Linked DNA regions of Homo sapiens: region 1 is linked to region 2. Evidence: fine-mapped expression QTL. A gene starts in region 2. The other region holds a variant in brackets. All regions are shown on one strand. Distances are from middle to middle.

Evidence for each region. PIP is the estimated chance that this variant, and not a neighbour inherited with it, causes the effect.
Region 1: its variant is fine-mapped to the expression of LINC02226 in testis (GTEx, PIP above 0.99).

The regions. Positions count from the first base shown.
Region 1 is chr5:8,331,164-8,341,223 of GRCh38, forward strand. LINC02226 (long intergenic non-protein coding RNA 2226) reads right to left here. Exons shown (of 6, transcript NR_039984.1): 4 at 6,018-6,132; 5 at 3,415-3,563; 6 at 2,320-3,289. Among named protein-coding and RNA genes, the nearest start is that of LINC02226, 120 kb to the right of the region's middle. The variant C/A (reference allele first, on the strand shown) is at 6,048.
Region 2 is chr5:8,452,851-8,462,910 of GRCh38, forward strand. It overlaps LINC02226 (long intergenic non-protein coding RNA 2226), which reads right to left and starts at 4,714. Exons shown (of 6, transcript NR_039984.1): 1 at 4,599-4,714. MIR4458HG (MIR4458 host gene) reads left to right here and starts at 4,837. Exons shown (of 2, transcript NR_039989.1): 1 at 4,837-4,916; 2 at 7,083-10,060. It overlaps MIR4458 (microRNA 4458), which reads left to right and starts at 8,075; the gene lies at 8,075-8,149. It also overlaps the pseudogene LOC100419318. RefSeq lists an enhancer at 4,427-4,526 and silencers at 5,047-5,096, 5,107-5,166.

The DNA of each region.
Region 1 (10,060 bases), 120 kb before region 2:
AATTTATCTTTGTTTCAAACTTTTTATCCCATTGTCCATCCTGTGCTTTGTTTTACAAGCATTGATACATTTACTAAAGTTTCTCTGAATATTCCAAAAAGCAAACAAACCAAGTTTTCTTATGACTTATAAATCATCAGACCTCACCTTTCTCAAGACCCACAAAATTACAAAACTAACCTGCAGGCTGAGGTGTGACCAGTGCCTGGGTCAGCCTGACTGAGGCCGTGAGGATGCTGGAGGCCACACTGTCCACTCTGAGTGTGCCCTGAAGTTATCATGCCTGGACATAGGAACCAGCAGAACCCTGGAGACAGCACTGTGTCCCCACAGGGCCACCGAATTGCTTCTTCCCTCTCATCCTGGAGTCATTTTCCAATTCACCCAAATGATCGGCTGAGCTTACACTGTAGTTTCCTGGTGGGCACATGATACACCTGAGGGCACCCCCACCAGGCAGCCACTCACTTATTGTCCTGCTCAGCCCTTGATAGCCCTGCTCCTAGGCTGGAGATCCAGATTTCCAACCTGCTCTAGGGTTGAACCCCAATCAAGAAGGAGCCCTGGAGTCCAGCTCTTCCTGCAGAGGCCTGCAGCTGCACCTCCCTGAGTACCGCCCTGTGGGCACCTGCAGCTGGCCAGTTCCTCCTCAGCCTTTCCTTGCTCAGGAGTGGCCTGGTCCAGCACTGCCTCCCTGGCTTCAGAGCCCCCTCCTCTATGGACTCATGCTCCTTGGATCTGGCATCCTGAGTGGAGCCCAGCCCAGTTAGAACACTGGACTTGGTCCCTGAAAGCCGAGCCAGGGCAGCTGCTCCCTCATCCGGGAGGGCAGCCAAGGTCTTAGAGGGGGAGCAACTTCTCTGTGGCAGGAAGGGCATGGAGAGAAGCCTCACAGGTAGCCTCCTCTCCCCACGCCTGCTCTCTTCTCCCCATGAAGCTTTCCCCTGAATTCTGCTGAAGACCAGGCCTCAAAAGGGGCACTGCCTTTGTATTTCGCCCTTTGTTTCTCTTTAATTCTAGAAAACCCTGAGTCTACCTTGGAGCACACTCTTGAATGTGACCCATCTAATGTCATCTTGACCCCAAGTCCACTTCCTTCAGGCACGCCTCCTTCTTCATTTTGCTGCCGCCAGCGCGTCTGCCTCCAGACCCTCTTCCTCTATGTAGGAGAGGCCACTCTCCTTCTAAAGCAAACCTTGCTTCCTTTTGCTGGAAAACAGCAGCTGCTGACCCACGGAGATCCAGACTCCAAAGGTGGCCCACAACCACCTTTACCCCACGATTTGTTTCCAATCTTCCTCGTAGCCTATCCCCTTACCCCACCACCTGCATGATTAGATTTCTCTGCAAGAGCAGAGATCCACCGTAATGGCAGCTCCAGTAAGAAAGCTGATTTCTGGCTTCTAAGAGAGTCTGCAGTGCAGTAGTCCTGGGTTGAAGGTTAGACTCTGCTGCATTAAGCACCTGGGGATGAGGCTCCTTCATTACTGCTCTGTCTCCCTAGAAGATGCCGTCCTCCTGGGCCTTCAGATGGACGCCAGTGTGGGATTTTATTGGAATGCACAAACTCCTGCACTGGCCAAGAAAAAAGTGGTGCAAAAAGCAATGCACAGGAATGGCTTGAGCAATGCAGGAGATGACGCCAAGCAGCCATGTGCCAGAGGGACCTGGGGAGCCCGCGGCAGGGCTTGGCGGTCAGCGGTGAACACAAGGTGGACAGTTTGTCCTCAGAGCCCAGTCACCAGGTGCATCCGCTTCACAGGGTTGGGGCCCGAATCTCTCTGTGCAAGGAGAGCATGTGGTTGGGCTGGTTTGAGTCTCACCCTTGGCAAGAAAGGACATCCCACTTTGATGGCTTTTTACCAAGACTGCACATGTTTGGAGCTGTGAAATTCTCCAAAGCAAAATTGGGGTGCTGCTGGCTTGTAGAATTCAGGTGTATGCTCCCCAGGAGGAAATGCCCACTGCTCACTAGAGATGGACAGTTCAGAAGAAAACTGGGCAGGACATTATCCCAGCAGCAGGAGTGGGTAAAGAAATGGGCAGGCAGAGTGGGTAGGGAGGGAGTGAGGAGCTGAGGAGCTCACTGGAGTGACAGTGAGATGGCTCATGGGCACAGAGAAATAATTCAAGCCAGAAGCCAAAAAAGTAACCTGAAGGCTGCACCAAGCAGTTTTGATGTCTTGCGTATAGTGGGAGGCAATAGATATTTGTAGGGTAGAATGAAGGGAAGAAAGACTGATTACAGGGAGGCCACTTAGGAGGTGACCGTGATATTCAAAGAAGACTCAAAAAGACAAGCCAAGGTAGAGGCAGTGGGAGTGATAATGCTGAAAATAGATTTATTTTGGAAAGGGGAATTTAAAACTGTGTCTTTTCCAGTGAAACCATTTCTCTGTTGCCCAAACTCAGTGCTGCCGATTGTGGCCGCACAGGCTGTGCAAGGCACATGGAAATGAATGGCTCCCCTGAAGTTGTGGGACGAGGCAGCCCTGCCTGGAGCTTCTGACATATGCAGGCAAATAAACATCCAGTACTTTCTCACAGAGATCTCCGGTGATAGGATAAATCACACATCCCAGCAAAGCAAGGGAAGAAAGCCAAAAATATTGAAGGCAGGCAAGGAGGGACCAGCAAACAAAGGACAAATAAAACCATAAGAAGGATTTTATATTCTAAAGATGATGGATCTTGAGCCACAGACAGAAGAGACGGATAGTTAGAAGCAGAGCAGCTGCAGAAAGAGGAAATCAGCAATGCATGTTTAATTTAACAGTTCAGGAAATCCAGTTACCATTTTTATTCGAGCATACTGGTGTGCTCTGCTATTCTCAAGAAATTATTTCCTTTTAAAAGTCCTGTTATTTGACTGTATCACGATAGAAATGGCTACCCATTGGCCATTCCCATCTCTTTCTCCAGTGCCTGCCTCCAGCTACAGAAGCCAGAGAATCAGGCACCCTCTTCCCCAACATTCTGCAGCTGGGAGGGGCCTTGTGGTCCCATCACATGGAGAGTGAAGGGCAGGGTGCCAGGCTTGTGGGAAAGATGTTTCCTTCTCTGTAGAAGAGAGGAGCTCTCTCCTTGCCCTTGTATCCCAGCTTCCTGCCTTGGCATGTTGAGATGTGAGAAGCCACTTTGCACCCATGAGAGAGAAGCAGGAGAGCTGTAGAGATGCTGACCCATGTCCTGACATCATGGGGCTTTGGAGAGCACTTGGAACCACCTTCTCTCTCTTCAGGTAAACAGTATATGCTCTTATGGTTTAAGCTGCTGCTCCCTGGGCTTTCTGTTGCACACAGATGAAGATACCTGAGTTCATGCAGTCCAAAGTGAAGGGTGTAAACACATTGCTTGTATAACAAGTACTTGCATGGACATGACTCTGTAATGAGGTCTATTATTTAAGATTACCTGTTATCAAAATTAGATAGGTGATTCACTTTATATTTTACAGAAAAAAATTTCTTGAATAAACCCAGTTATATGATTGGCCATCTGATGATAAAATGTACTCAAGCAGTAAAGAAATATTACTAATTGTTTCTTCTGGATGTTACTCCCTGGAAAAAAGGGTAATATTTATAGAATTGATGAATAATTATAGTATTAAATAATTATTTTCAACATCTCAATCAAAATTATTCTCTTAATTTTCAATAGTTATCCAACATTTCAATTTTTATAAAACAAACACAACTTTTTCATGATGTAAGTTTCAATGGTTGGTTATTTATTAATTGAAGATTTTTCCGTTTCTAATATATGACAAGCATTTTGCTTCAGGAATCAGTATCTTTATCTCAGGTTTCTTTTTTCTTTTCTTTATTCCTGAAGTGAAATTACTGGGAGCTGGCATATCAAAGATATTCTGACCTTAAACAATTAGACAAACTAATTACAGTCAGGTTTTTAAAAGAGCAGGCATTTAATTTCCACAAATCTCTATGTTGCCATATTCTTACAAGTTGTTTCATGCCCCACGATTAGCAGGCAGTCTGTGACAAGAGATTTCTTCAAGGCATTGGGATGGATGAGCCTTGTAAGATGTGGTTAACAGATTGAGTACAAATTTACTTCAAATTTCATTGACCCATTGTCTTACAGGTCAATTTCATGAATTGTCTTACAAGACAATTAATGAAATAAATAGGGATTTAAAAGTTTCTTTTAGGTCTTGGCATAAGTAGGCCGGGCACGGTGGCTCACGCCCGTAATCCCAGCACTTTGGGAGGCCGAGGCGGGTGGATCACGAGGTCAGGAGATCGAAACCATCCTGGTTAACACAGTGAAACCCCGTCTGTACTAAAAATACAAAAAATTAGCCAGGCGTGGTGGCGGGCGCCTTGTAGTCCCAGCTATTCGGGAGGCTGAGGCAGGAGAATGGCATGAACCTGGGAGGTGGAGCTTGCAGTGAGCCGAGATCACATCACTGCACTCCAGCCTGGGCGACAGAGCAAGACTCCGTCTCAAAAAAAAAAAGCAGAAGGTCTTGGCATAAGTAGATCATGAATCAAAAAATGAACCTGTCAGTCTTTGGGAAATGTGGTTAAATCTACCGAAGTAATACATTGAAGATCATGAAGTTAAATTTGCTGAATGATCTGTTGGATTTGCTATGGCATGTTTGGCTCCCAGAAAGTTGTTCCTTAAAAGACAAACAAAAAAACCTTTAAATCACAATTCTATTTATTTATTTCTCTCTTTGCATGCCAGACTTTTAAGAACAGCAACACTTTGCATGGCCATCTCCAGCAGGAGGTAGTAGAAGAGTGCTGAAGTTGGTGGTAGAAGCTGAGCTCATTATCTGAACATAATTAATCTCTATGTGATCACAACATCCATGTTGACACAATTAACATTAACTTAAAAATATTGAACATGGATGTGTCAACCTAAATAGCAAACAGAGAGAGGCTCTCTAAAAGTAAAAGATATTTATTGAGGCATGGGCATTGCAAAGGGCACATGTGTGCCTTAGTAAACTATGTACACATTCAGGGAGGTAAAGGAAGGCTATGCTTTTAAAGAAAAAATGAAGAGTATTACATAATTATTTTAAAATGATTATTCTTGGCTATGTTGATCAATAACAAATATGATGCTACTCCAAGGTTGGACAAGCAGTTTTTGGGGTGATGTCCTCGCAGAAGTATTTTTTGGTGTAAGTTCCTGAAAGCGTTTGTGCAAGGATGTGGTTTTTGCAATGTTTTGTGATAGTTTTTGTTGTCAGGCATACAAACATGAGAACTCTTTCTTGATAGCTTTCCTCAGCTCTATTTGTTAGAGTTTTTTTTTTTCTTTATTTTTTTTTAACATAAATGACTCCATTTTGATACTGACAATTTCCAAAGAGACAGTTCAGATTTTTCTAAAAGGCCTAGCTATTTGCAAATGACCAAACATCATAGTCATCAAGAAATTTGGAAAACTCAGAATTCCTTAAATTGCAGGTCTATTATTTAGGATAACCTGATTTCAAAGCTAGATAATTTATTAATTTTCTATTTTACAGAAAAGGATACTCTTGAATAAACCCGATTATATTAGATACTGAAGGTTAATTTTTCCTGAGTTTCAGTGCTGTTCAAATTATACAATGGCTAACCTGGACTGCAGGTGAAAATCGCCAAGGAATACTTAAAAAGCAGCACACCCTGCCCAGTGTGAAAGGGCTTTCTGATGATTGTCGTGTGCAGCCATGGCTGAGAGCATCCCTGGCTGGGCTAGCACTTGTGCCTCAATGCAGTGCTCTCCTTAAGTATTAATCGAGTGAGCTCAGTTGTTGCCAGAAAAACATAAGTTGGACTCAGGAGAGCTTCTCTCTTTCAATTTACCTAAGCCTGCTTTGTTTGATGCGTTAGTCAGCCAGGAGATGTAGACTGGTGCCTATGAAAAAAAGAAAACACTCAGAGAAAATGACAGCTCACTTAGGTCTCTGGCGTGAATTGCTGCTTTAAAGAAGGAGAACAAATCTTTTTTGGAATCCGAAAAGCAAATTGCTCATCTCTGCTTACCTTAAACAAACAAACAACTAATCCTTGTGT[C/A]TCTGCAGTATTTGTAATATTCCCTTTTATTTCCAAGGTCCTGTGTGCCTCAATACTGTACTGTAGACAGGTGCTGTCAGGCCATCTTCCAGGCAAACATGGAAAGGAATAGTGATCAACAGTCAGGGGTACTAATCAACATAGGCCAAGAGCCCCAGCGATTTTCATTCTGCGTTCTTCCTGCTTCTATTTTTTGAAAGTTTGAAATGTACACACTTTATGTAGCCTGCACTGTGGAAAGGCCATCAGTGTTAGCTGCTCAGGTGGAAGGACACAGAGAATGCCCTGCTTCCATCTCCTTCTTTTCCTAACTGTGTGATGCTGAAAAGTTCCTGACTTGCTTGCTGAGCCTCTATTTCCTTCTCTGCAAAAATATGGCTACATGTGTCTGTGAGGGCCAACTACCAAAAACGAAGAAACAAAAATCCAAATATACTACCTGGCACATAGTGGAAATAAAAGATATTATATTATTACTCTTTGCTAGTATTATACCTACACTTCATTTTCAATTGTAAAAAGCATCACACTTAAGCTAGTAACCACTATTCCTTAGGGAACTGTAGTAAACTGACCCTTGATCATCTTCAGGATAAAAGACTTAGCATTGCATCTGTATCTCTTTGTGGTCTGCCACCATGTACTTGTAATACCCACTGAAGGATATTCTTAGGTCCAACTAAATTAAGATGTGCAGAATCACCACGAGCCATGCTTGGCACCCACTGTGCTTACACAGGGCAGAAGCCACAGCATGAGTGTGAAGAGACAGCTCTCCAAGGAGTTTCTGCACGTCTTGCACACACACCTTCTGTTGTGACTGTCTTGTCAAGCACGATGTGTGACGCACTGGTTATCCATGGATGGCCACGCGGTTCCAATGCACTCTGCAATGTTGCTCTAGGATAAACAATGGGATTCTTTTCAACCTTTCTCCTTGAAAGCCAGTGTGATTCTGAGGCTTTTAGTAGAAGACACTTGGGACTCTGCAAGAGGAAAAGACTTCCTACAATTCCAGTGTGGAGCGAGGTGAAGATGTAGATGTGAGGACCTCAGGAGGGTCTGCCACAGCCACAGTTAGGATGTGGTCTTTCTGCATCCTGCAGACTTGGCCTGGTAATAACCTTTCCACAACCATCTTGACCAAGAAACCAGAATCCCCCAACATCTGCCTGATTCCAAGGCCTCCTGACTGTGCTGATGCCAGGACTCCCTCTGCAAGTCTCCATGTGGCCACCTGCACCTGAATGTCACCTTCTGTCCCTCCTGCAAACCCCTCCTCCCACCACCACCACCTTGTGAAATCCATGTATTGGAAGGCTCTCTGCCTCCACCAGCACCCAGGATCCCACTGCCTGCCTGTGCAGATTGCTGTTCATTTGCACTCCCTCCTGCATGGCAGAGAGGATTCTGATATTTTCAAAAGCAACTCCAGACCAGCTCCAGCCTGGCAACACTGAAAACTTCTCCACTATCTGCTGGTTAAACTATGCCTTTTTCAGTGAGGCCTAACTCCTTCTGAGTTTGTTCTTCCTTGGGTGCTCTCCCTTAGCCTTAGGGCACCATATAGAGTTTTCTTATGTTGTATAGTTAGCCTTTAATCAAATTTAATAATTCTTTTTATTAAACATCTCCTTTTTAACGGTGGTATGATTTGTATCTCATGACTGGATGCAGACTACTACATCTAGCAAAGAGAATTGATAGACAGAGACAGTATCTAGCTCTGGAGCAGAAGATGGGGTTGTTTTGCCACCAATGTAATAAGATAATGTAAAAGTTGGGCAGATCTGCTTGCTGCCCATTATTTAAAAAATTGATGTTTCCTGAGCTCTGGGTTTATCAGCTGTAAGACAAACTCTCCACCTCTGCATGCACAGCATCTACCCAGACCCACCTGTGATGCCCCTTGGGGGCTGGAGGATTCAAAACCTGTGTGAATATGCAGGTAATGCTTCCTGCTGTGCCTTGATGAAAATGAATCTCTTTGTCTCTAACCTAGAACTCTCATATCCTCTGCCAGCATCTACACAACTGTGAAAGGATAACTTCTTAGTTTGCAAGTAGAGGAAATTTTCGGAGACTTCATAATTCTTGACAGCAAGCAAGATAGAATCAGGGGACCTATGGGAGCTCTTGCATCAGTCTCTGCAACTGTTTCAGCAGTCAGGTGGGCATTCTTTTGGCTGCTTTCTACCCCTGACTCATGTAAGAGCTCAGGTGCAGAGAGATGAGATTCATATATGAGTGGAGGTTCCTCGCTGGCCTAAAAGCCTCATGTTGCACAGTAGCCAAATGTCTTACAATTCCACAGTTACAGCTTCCAAGGTCTCTGTAAGAACATGCCAGCACCAAGAGTCACCACACTCTGGGAAGCCCATAGCTCTAGCATCTTGCCAGGCATTTATTTAGTTCTCTTAGGCTGCAGAAATTTGCCAGTCAAGGGTCTTTTTCCCCATAATCAATATTGTCTTTTGATGTCATTGAAATTCTTCCTTTATCTAATTTCCACGGAAATAGAGTTAGAAAGGTAATTAAAGATGAAGTCCTAAAGCCAAAGGAGAAAAGATCATATTAACTCCATACTCAGATTGCCTGTTCCACATTTTCTTTTTTAAGTTGTGCACATCAAATTCTGTTTTCTCTATTTTGTCAACCTTTTCGTCAACTTAATATACCAAATTATCTCAAACCTTTCTCTCCCTGAAATGCCCTTCATACAGACCCTTTGTTTACCTGTCATAATTAGCATGTATCTTCAAGGATAATCTCTGGAAGATGGCCGACTAGACGCAGCCAGAAAGAGCATCTCCCACCAGGAGAGACTAAACCACCCAGTAGACAGGTACACTCTGAACAAATCCTCAGAAAGAAGGCATTGAGAATGGACAGAGGGAGGATGCAGACCCTGGGGCTGAAAGGGGAGAAAGGTGGGAACTGTGCGCAAGGTTGCTGAGCACTGGGACTCATTCCTGGCTGAGGCTCACCATAGTCCTGTAGGTGGCATTAGCCATTGTTAGAGGCCAGACCTGGAAAGAGCAGGGCTGCCCTTCCCACAGATTGGGGCCAATCTGATCTGAAGATCCCTTGTGTGCCAGCCTCCCCCAAGAGCCCTAGCTGGCCACACCCCTTTTCAGCACAGCCTCAGCTGCTCTGCTGAAACAGTTGACAGAAGCTACTGTGCCATAGTTCATTCACTGGCAGCCCCTGCCTTCCCCTCAGAGCGCTTTGGCAGGCAGATCCCTGCTGGTGTGCACTCATCTACAGCCTTCCCCTGCAGGAGCACTTGCAGCCTTCTTATAATGCTCCACTACCATGCACAGCCCATCCACCACCCTGTTGGTGCACACATGCCTGCTACCCCCATGCTTCTCTGCCAATGTGCACTCACCCACGGCTGCCCTGCCACCCTACTGATGTGCGCTTTCCTATACCCCCCAACCACAGTGCGCTCTCCCATGGGCCCCCTACTACCTTCCCACCGAAGCATTTTTGCTGGCAGCTCCCATTGGAATGTTATGCCAACAGACTGAGAACACATCAGCCCCTCCAGCACAGAAGGTGCTTGACCTTGAAGGGCCAGAGAACAAAGAAACAGGCCTGGTCCCAGCCCCCCATCAGGGTTGGAGCAGGCAGCCTGGGAGCGCTGACCAGAACCTTGCTCCCTTGAAAAGATTCAGAAATGAAACCAATCAACTAAATGCAGCTTATACCACAGCCAAGCCCTAGAGGGCACCAAATAATATTAAAGCAAAGAGCCCCATTTAAAGGATAGCAACTTTAAAGGTTAAAAGAACATCAGCCCATATGGATGAGGGGAAAAACAAAACAAAACAAACAAAAAACACAGTACAAGAATTCTGGCAACTCTAAAAACAACAATGACTTTTTACCTCCAAATAACACTAGCTTCCCAGCAATGGTTCTTAACCAGATTTAAGTGGCTGAAATGACAGACATAGAATCCAGAATCTGGATGTCAAGGAAGCTCAATGAGATACAGGAAAAGGTTG
Region 2 (10,060 bases):
AAACTCGCATACTTTCTGTGACTTAAAATCAGAAGTTTCCCTTGTCAATTTCCCTTGCCACCTCTAAGAAAAGCTTATCTATGTTAAGTTCCTTTTTACTGATTTGTATTTTTATGTTCCCCCAAAATTTCACATTGATATATAAGAATTTTCTGTTGCTAGTTTAAATAATTTTCTGCATGATTCAATGATTATAAATATTTATCTCCAAAATAATATGATCTATTTTTCTTTATTTATCCTCAGTATATATTTCCTTTAACTGAGATCCAGTCATCTGAAGTATCTAGGTAGACTTGATTTGATATAAAATTATAAACTAACCCTCTTAAGAAAATGTCCAAAGTGACATTTAGACATTTGCTCTTTCATGAAAGATTCTAACATATATTATTGTGGTTATTATTATCAATATTATCTCCAAAATTATATTGCAACTCTTTAGTTAGGTAAGTAAAGATCCTGCTCTTCTGGAAACTGCCTGCTTCCCTTTCCATAAAATAGTTAAGTTTCTTTAACTATTTTCTTCTAATTCAAACGCTTTACCACATGACTTTTTTTAGACCATTATGGAAAAGAAAGTCAAAACATTGCTGGGTATAAGGATTCCTGGACTCTGAAACATCAAAATTTCAAACACTAATTATTCTAGTCTAAGTTATAACCAGCTCATCTTGAAACTAATGAAGAAAATAAGAGCTAAATGTGTTTAGCATAAGTCAGATGATTATATCTGATCAGTGAACATGAATTAAGAGTTTAACAATATTATGCATGAAAAGAATAAAAGTGAGGGAATCACGTATTTTCTAGTTTTCCAAACAAAATGCAGGTTTTCATGGCAAGTAATTGACTTTCCCAGGTGATTTTATTAATTGAAAACCTGAGGTACTAAAAGTTTATTCAGTCATACTTGTTTTATTGTACATTTTGTTTTATTGAGTTTCACAGATACTGTATTTTATATACATATATATATATATATAGAAGGGTTGTGGCAGCCTTGCATTGAGCAAGTCTATCAGCGCCATTTTTCCAACAGCATGTGTTCAGTTTGTGTATCTGTGTCACATTTTGGTAATCCTCACACTATTTCAAACTTTTTCTTGTTATTATATCTGTTATGATGATATGTGGCGAGTGATCTTTGATGTTACTATTATAATTGCTTGGGGGCACCAAGAGCCACACCCATAGAAGACTTTAAACTGAACTGGTAAATATGTGTGTTCTGACTGCACCAGCAACCAGCTGTTCCCCATCTCTCTCCCTCCCATTAAGTCTCCCTGTTCCCTGAGACACAATGTTAAAACTAGGCCAATTAATAACCCTACAGTGGCCTCTAGGTGTTCAAGTGAAAGGGAGACTTGCAAGTCTCTCACTTTAAATCAAAAGCTTGAAATGATTAAGCTTCGCAAGGAAGGCATGTCAAAAGCTGGATAGGTTGAAAGCTAGGCCTTTTGTGCCAAATGGGTAGCGAAGTTGTGAATGCAAAGGAAACGTTCTTGAAAAAAAATTAAAAGTGCTACCTCAGGGAATATAGGGATAATAAGAAAGTGAAACAGTCTTTCTGCTCATCTGCGGAAAGTTTTAGTGGTCTGGAGAGATTCAAACCAGACATATCATTTCCTTAAGCCAATGTCTAATCCAGGACAAAGCCCTAATTTTCTTCTTTTCTATGATGACTGAGAGACATAAGGAAGCTGCAGAAAAGTTTAAAGCTGGCAGACATTGGCTGATGAGGTTTAAGGAAAGAAGCTGTCTCCATACATAAAAGTGCAATGTGAAGCACCAAGTGCTAGTGTAGACACTGCCACGAGTTATCCAGAAGATCCAGCTAAGATCATTGATAAAGGTGGCTACACTAAACAACAGCTTCTCAGTGTAGGCAAAATAGCCTTATGTGGAATGAGATGCTGTCTAGGACTTCATCTGACATGCTTTATTGTGATATTCACTTTATTGAGGTGGTCTGGAACTGAACCCCCAATATCTCTGACATATGCCTGTAATTTGCAAGGGGGAAAACAACTTTTTGCTATTACATTCAAAATGGATTTTGAAAGAGTCAGTTTTCTTTTTTCTTTCTTTTTTTTTTTTTTTTTTTTTTTGAGACGGAGTCTTGCTCTATCGCTCAGGCTGGAATATAATGGCACAATCTCTGCTCACTGCAACCTTCGCCTCCCGGGTCCAAGCAATTCTGCTGCCTCAGCCTCCCAAGTAGCTGGGACTACAGGCACATGCCACCATGCCCGGCTAATTTTTGTATTTTTAGTAGAGATGGGTTTCACCACATTGGCCAGGCTAGTCTTGAACTCCTGATGTCGTGATCTGCCCACCTCGGCCTGCCAAAGTGCTGGGATTACAGGCGTGAGACACCACCCCTGGCCCAGGAGTCAGTTTTCTATATCACTTGACTTTCTTTGCTCAGAAAGTCCAGCAACATGTTGCTCTAGGTCTTTGTTTAAAAAAATGTTATTGTGCCCAAAGTATTTAAAAATTTCTAAGACTTAGTATCTATTTCCTTATTAGAACTAAGAAAAAGAGAGCTCACAGGTAGTGTCTGATCAAAAACCACAAGCTTGCTGCACACTTGGCCTATTTAGGATTCAAGTTAGAAACTGTCAACTGAGAGATGTTAATTATCTTCTTTTTAAAAGTTGCTTGTAGATCCACTGTTTTAGCCCAGAATATTTCATAAAATGACACTGATACGTTTTGAATATATGTCCCCACCAAATCTCATGCTGAATTTTAATCCCCAGTGTTGGAGGCGGGGGCTGGTGGGAGGTGTTTGGGTCGTGGAGGCAGATCCCTCAGGCTTGGTGCTGACTTCCTGATACTAAGTTCCTGCAAGATCTGGTTGCTGTAAATTGTGGCACCTCCCCACCACTTTTCTCTCTTCCTCCTGCTGGCCTTCCACCATGAATAAAAGCTCCCTGAGGCTTCCCCTGGAAGTCTAACAGATGCCAGCAGCATGCTTGTACAGCCTGCAGAACTGTGAGCCAATTAAACCTCTTTTCTTTATAAACTACCCAGTCTCAGGTATTTCTTTATAGCAATACAAGAATGGACTAATACAGACACATCATTTTTTTGTGTGTGGTAAATTCTTCCAATTTCTCACCTTGCATTCCCAGTGCTGCCCTAACTGGACCTGGGGAGTTTCATCATACTTTCTTCAATACAAAGATTGTGAATACCTATGAACTCTTTTAAGACAATTTGTATTCTGCCATCAGGCTTCCTAAGCTACCTTGTGGATCCACATGCAACAGAATCAGAACTTTCAAAGCAGTCACCAAACATGTAACTGACAACTTAAAAAAAAAAAATTCAAAATGAAATTAACAAGCACCAAGGGTGTTATTATTCTCTTATATTTCTTTTAGCAGCATTCCATCACTATCTGCTTCTTCCACTTCAGAAACCTGCAAAACTGCTGTAGAATATCAAGCAGTTGTTCTAGTGAAGTCAATTATTTTTTAGCTCACTGCAAAACATCTGTTGACCCACGTTTTAGTCTTCTGTTCACTCTCTTCCAAGTATGTACTTGGGAAAACAACAGGACATCAACCAGGCAAGCTCATTACCATTTTCCACAGATAAATCTTTACAGTCGGTGTGAAAAATCTCACCCTGAACTATGGTGGCTGTAGTGAAAAGAACCATGGACAGACACAAGTATGACTTGTGAACATGATTCATAAAGCACCCAGAGCCCCAGTGTGGCAACACCAGATGAATGAAAAAGGTTCTACCATGTTATCAAAATCATGTCATTCTCACTTTCCCTCAACAGTACCTAAATTTTAAAAAGAATATAAGCATAATGATGAAATACTACAAAAGTATCAATTGAGATCACACTGCACTCAATGAAAATTATCCATGTTTATGAAAATAAAGATCTGTATCCAAAAAAATAGCAAAGTGTCCACAATAAATTATAAACACCAGGACATCAGGGACATTGATCTCTATATCCCAAAGCCTAGAAAAGTGCCCAGCACCTAATAACAATACTAACTTTTGAACATTTCACCACGTGCCAGGCACAGTTCTGATATGCTCCATGTTTCAACTTAAGGCTTACAGGCCAGGCTTACAGGCCACCAGTGAATCTATAAAGTTTCAGTTTATATATGAGAACTGAAGCACGGGATTAGATAATATTCCGAGACAACACAAATTAGTAGCAGATGGGTTAAACTCAGGCCGCGCATGTCTAGAATATGCACACTTACATGCTTGTTGAAAAAACTGTGTTGATTAGTATCAAACTAGCTTTAGAAAATAGAAGTTAAAAAAGGCAATAGACTTTGGCAAATTATTTGAGTAAAACGTCAAATGTCAGATATGTCGAGGCATGGGTAGCCTTCTAAGGGGTCACGTCTATGGAAGGAAAAAGTTTGGCTTAACAAATAGGAAAGTGAGAAAAAGAATGAAACAGTAAAATAACAGGATCTCGTGATGGGGAAAAGGCGGCCTGCCCAGACCTAAACGCCTCGCGGCCTCGCAGGCGACGCGGGGATGACTCAGCAGGACAGAAGGGAGGGAAGCTCCAGACGCCACGGCCCTCTTCGAGATGAAAGTACCTCCCATCCTAAGGGACTGGCGTTCCAGGAACAGCTGCGCTGGCTGAGCCGGCTCAGTGAGGCGGAGCGGCCAAGCCTTCAGTCCACTCCCACTCCCCGATGAAAAACCCAAGACCGGGTAGCGCAGCCCCTCCGCGCACGCGTAACACGAGGAGACACCGCCCACACGCCAGACGCGCTGTGATTGGCCCCAGCTACCCTCGGACCGAGATTCCTATTGGTCCCAGGTGTCGAGCATGCGCACTTTGGTCGTGGGCGCGTGTGTGGAATGGGAGGAGGTCGCGCTGTCCATGGGCGTCCTTGGCCTGCGCCACCCAGGTGAGCGCTCCGGAGGCTGCGATCCCCGGGTCCCGACCGCCCGCCTAGCACTGGCCTGATGGGGAAGCGTCCCGGGACTGGAAGGGCAGCCGGCTTGCGCGCGTGGTTCCCACGCCCCTCGGGCTCGGGGGATCGCTCCGGGTGCTGGCTGCGGGCTCGGCGGGGAGGACCCCGGGAGCGCGTCCCTGGGCCCCACGTCGGCCTCTGCGCGGGCAAGCCCCTGGGCTCTTTGGCTCTAGACGCTTTCCAGGCCTGGGGAAACCGCATGCGTGGACGTGGGAAACGGGGCGCGTGACGGGGAGGGGCGCGCCCCGGGGGCCTGTGGTCGTTCCGAGCTTCCACCTGGCCCGACGCAGGCATGTGCCCTGCCCGCCGCGTCGTCCCTGGGCCTGCGGGGGCTGGGGCCTCAGCTGAGAGTCCTGGGAAGGTGGTGCTGGATTGTGGCTCTGTCGCGGGGATGAGGGGTTGATCTGGGAAGCCCTCAGGATGTGTGTGTGGCTCCTGGAAGGTGACGCACATTGTTAGCTTCAGTAAGGTTTTCAACACCATGTTTCCGCAGAACTTGGTCATAATAACTATATCGCCTTCTAATAGTGCTTTTGGGGAGTTACTCATTTTAACAGCTACTACGTGTTGAATGTCCTCTTGTTTGCCAGGTGCAGTTCTCATCCCTAGGGGTGGAGAGTTGAAGAAGATATATTCAGTTATTTTCTTTTTTAATGCTTGAGCTAACAATGATTTTATCCTTTGCTTTCTTAAAGGTTTAATTTGCTCTTAGGTGGACAGAAAAGCATAAACTGAATTTTAACTACAAGTTGGTCACAGTTGAAAAGCCTCATGTGTGGTTTGAGTTTTAGCTTAGATCTCTCCTTACATGTCTTTCCTGACAGCTCCTCAGATTTAGACAGTGTGAGGATCAAAACTGTATGAAGGTGCTTTACTCTTGATAATCTGTGAACGTCAACTAGGAAAATTTTGAGTGTATTAGAAATGTTTTTCGAACTCTTTGAGAGTCTAGGCAATTTCACTTGGGTTCTGTGATTAATTTGCAAAGTATTAGGATGAAATCAAGAAACCTGCAGTTTTAATTGAATTGACTTTGGTTTTGTTTCTCAAAAAGTGGGACAACAAAAATACCTACTTAAGACTACTGTTTCAGGCACTGTCTAATTGCATTCATCAGATCTTATTATATTCATTCCATGAGGAATCGAAGACCTATTCAGTCAAGCAGCAGCCCAAGGTTACACGTCTAATAAAGGGCACATTCCCAGATCAAGCCCATGTAGGCTGACTCTAGATTCTGATTTTGAACTGCTCTGTTTCTGAATTGGAGTTTAACTCCTCTGTTACCCCTAGATTAATGGTGAGTATTTTCTCTCACCCAAGTTAATTCCATTAACTCTAATCAGAACCCTAATTTAGCATATTTCCAGTACAGTAGTTGCGGATCCATCCTACTCTAGAGTTTTTGTGCTATGTGTTAACTGTCTTTTATAAATGAAGGGACGGCTTCCTCTGTAACATACGGGAGCATTGTATAATCTTTGAACAGGCAAAAGCATTCCAGAGAAAAGATAGATGAATTTCATATATTTTTATTAAAACAATTTTATTAAAACATAGATAAATACTGGATTATTTAAGCAAGTTGCAGTCTATGTAGGTTAACCACTAAGCTATGCTTCCTCTCTTTGCATGCGTGTGTGTGTATACGTGTGTTTTTCCTAAAGATACATCAAGGCTTAGTACTTTCACAATGAGTTAAGTCCTGCGCTGTGCCTTGAAAGATGAAGGGAGGGAGTTAGAGGCAAAGATGAATTAACAGGTTAACAGGATCCGGGTCCAAGTCCTTAGATGCCTATTAAAGAGTTCAGGCTTCACTCTGCGGGAAGTAGGAAGATTTTTGAAAGACTAAGTACTGGAAGGACATGATCAGGTTTGCAACTTAGAACTATCACTGTGGCTGCAGACCTAAGAGTAGACGAGAAGGGTGGGTAGAAAGGTTAGGAAACTACATTTTCCGAAGAAAAACATGGAAAGAACTGAAAGGGTGATCCTGGAGTCAGAGCCAGGTAGAGAGTTTAGGGATTTAAGGAGGATTTGGTAAGAGATTTATTGTGAATCCTACATCCTAAAATTTTAATGTTTTTTTTTCTTTTCTAGAGATGATAAATAGCCAAAGACGTCAATGGCACCCATGGACATAGTAAGCATAGTAGGAGCTGAAAAACTAGAAGCAATGACAATGTCAACTATTTTGAGCAAAAAGAAGCAGTGTCTTCGGAACATTTGATCATAAAACCAGAAATTAAAGGATGAGAAAAACATTTTTCTGAAGCTTATACTTTCACATTTCCTAGAGAGCATATTTGTGTGGATGGGGGTGGGTAAACACTCAACAAAAGTTTCTTTAAAAAGAAGAAACCATCCTGGTTTGATGTAATCAATGGTTGCCCACTGCTCCCTTCCTGTGCCTGTGACCCTTCCCAAACTGCCCTGTTGCTTGCAGGCTCGCCTGAGCTGAAAGGCAGCCCTCACATCCCGTCGGCACCTCCCTGGGGCCTTCTTTACACCCTGGAGAACTTCACAGGGAATCTGTGTCTGTAACACAAAGGCTTCCTGGTCCAGATGTAGATACTAAGGCTGACTGGTTATTTAAGTCCTGCGGACTTACTCTGCCAAAATTATTTAATCATGTAAAAATAATTTATAATTCTTATAAAGTATCCCCTTCATAATATAATGAATGTTGGTGCTATTACATTTAAGTGCACATGTACAGTATACAAGATTATTAATAATAATGTTTTCAAATAGTTATTGTCAAAGCTATTTTTCTTATGTTTATGAAAGTGCTTATAAAATTCATGTTTTATGAGGCTGGAGATGTATATTTTGTAATTTCATTCTGATATTTGTTAATATTCGCTTCCAATGCTGGTTTTGTTTGATGAGACTGACATTGCCTAATTTCAAGCTTTTTGAATGTGTATTCTTTCAGGGCAAGTATGAAATAACTAGTAAAAAATATACAAATATGCTTAACAATAAGTAGACTTTCTCACATTGATTACTTACAACAGCTTTATGTGGGGTGAATCAGATGCCTGTATTACAGAAGCATCTAATGCAAAGCAAAATAAAAACACTTGCATGAGCGCACAGAGGTAGGTGTGGAAGAAAGTGAAACACTATTTTAGGTTTTAGTTACACTCTGCTGTGGTGTGCTGCCTAGTATTTGCAGGTTAATGCAAATACTAGGGGTTATGAATTGTTTCTAAGTTTATTATTAAAAATAGCCTTGCTTCATTTCTTCCTAAAATGGAGACAAATATGTATAGTGTCTGTGTTACCAGTATGTGTAAGAGTAATATCTTAATGCGTGTAAAATGTTTATAGGAACCTGTATTTCAAAGAGCTATTTTTGCAAGTGACACTATCCTTTTAAGAAACTTTTTTATTCAAACTTTTTCCTCCATTTATAACTATTCTATTATTTCTTAATGTTCAGAACCCTTTTCATTATCTATAAGGTTAAATTTTAGGTAAGTAATGAGAAAATAATAATATGTGGAGAAGAAATGAGTGAGGAGTCGAGATGTGTGTCAATCAAGAATGAGTTTGTCAGCCCTTGTATTATGATTTTACTCGGGAGGGGATAATTATTGAAGGATGTAATGTAAGGGCAGTGATACTATATGGTATGTAAGACTGTTAAAATCACTGAGGTAAGCTATTACTTGAACTAAGCATAGAAATAGAGACAGATTTTTAATGCATTTAATTATCAAAATATCTAAATTAAAGATTTGATGTGGTTGTTCACTGGAAACAAATGGCAGACAAACAGAATATTTCTTGGAATCATAAATGACATCATCCTGTCTCCAACTTTCTGTGTAGCTTCTTTCTTTAGTTGGTCTTTGCTTAGATTTCCCTGTGTCAGAGACGACTTCCCTGGATATCAGTGACAGTTATTGATTGCTCATGCTATGAACTCCTCCCATTTCTCAGCCCTCTTGCAGTAGGTGGGGCCATGGTACTAGTTGTGGCTTATTGCTTAAAGACTTTAAGGCTCCATGTGTGACTTTCCAGCTCTGGTCCACTGCTACTGCGGCTCTGGCAGGACTAGGGAGGTGCCCCGTGTCTCAGATGGTGCAGCCTCCATCCAGCTGTGTCCCTGAATGACTAGAGCACAGCCACTGGTGACCTGTGGTGGACGTAGAATGTGGGTAAGAGATAAACTTATGCTACACCGCTGGGGTTCAGGGGCTAATTTGTTACCACAGCATAGTCAACCTTTTCTAGCACCCCATTCTGTCTAAATTTAGTAGTCCTACCCCACTCCATGCCTCCCCAACCCTTCCCCTGGCTTTAGTTTCTTTGTAGCACTGGTCCCCGCATGACCTGTCGTTGCTTTACTTTCTCGCATCACTTCTCCCTGCCTCCAGCACATGCACTAAAATTTAAACTCCATGCCTGGACAAAATCAATGTTTGTTAAATAAAGTCTGCCAGTTCTGTTTGCGATTTTTCAGAAACAAGGAAAGAAATCCTATATAAAGTTGATCTGTGCTTTGGCAATATTCATTTAGGGTAATTGCCCTTTTTTCAAATGGCTGTGCATTTTTTATGATGATGAATATAAAGTATTTAGCAGAAATATTTTTTATTAAAATTGTTGAGCTTATGGAATCAATGTAGCAGCCTATGTGAAAGAAACACTGTGCTAGAGAGTTGTCTTTCTGCCACGTGTAATCATTACATTTAACTCAAGTTCTCCATGGGAGATCCATGCAGAGATATGAAAATAGGACGGACGTCTCTTCCTTCTTAAAAGTTGCTCCAGATTTTGGCTTCAAGTGCTTCCTGTTTTTTGCCCTCCCTTATCCCTGGGAGTTCCCTCTATTTACTTTCACAAGGACTCTTGGTATAAAAGATATTTGTATACCTGGGTGTGTGGGAAGGAATTGAAGGCAAAGGTAGCAGTCATTTCAAGCTGAACATGTTAAGTGGTAATCGAGCACTTGGTTTTTGTAGTACCTCCTGTGGCCATCTCCACAGTGTCATATTTGAAAGAAATCTTGTGTAAGCATTGGTCTAAGGGTCACTGACTGTGAATAATGAATGCGGTGACAGCAT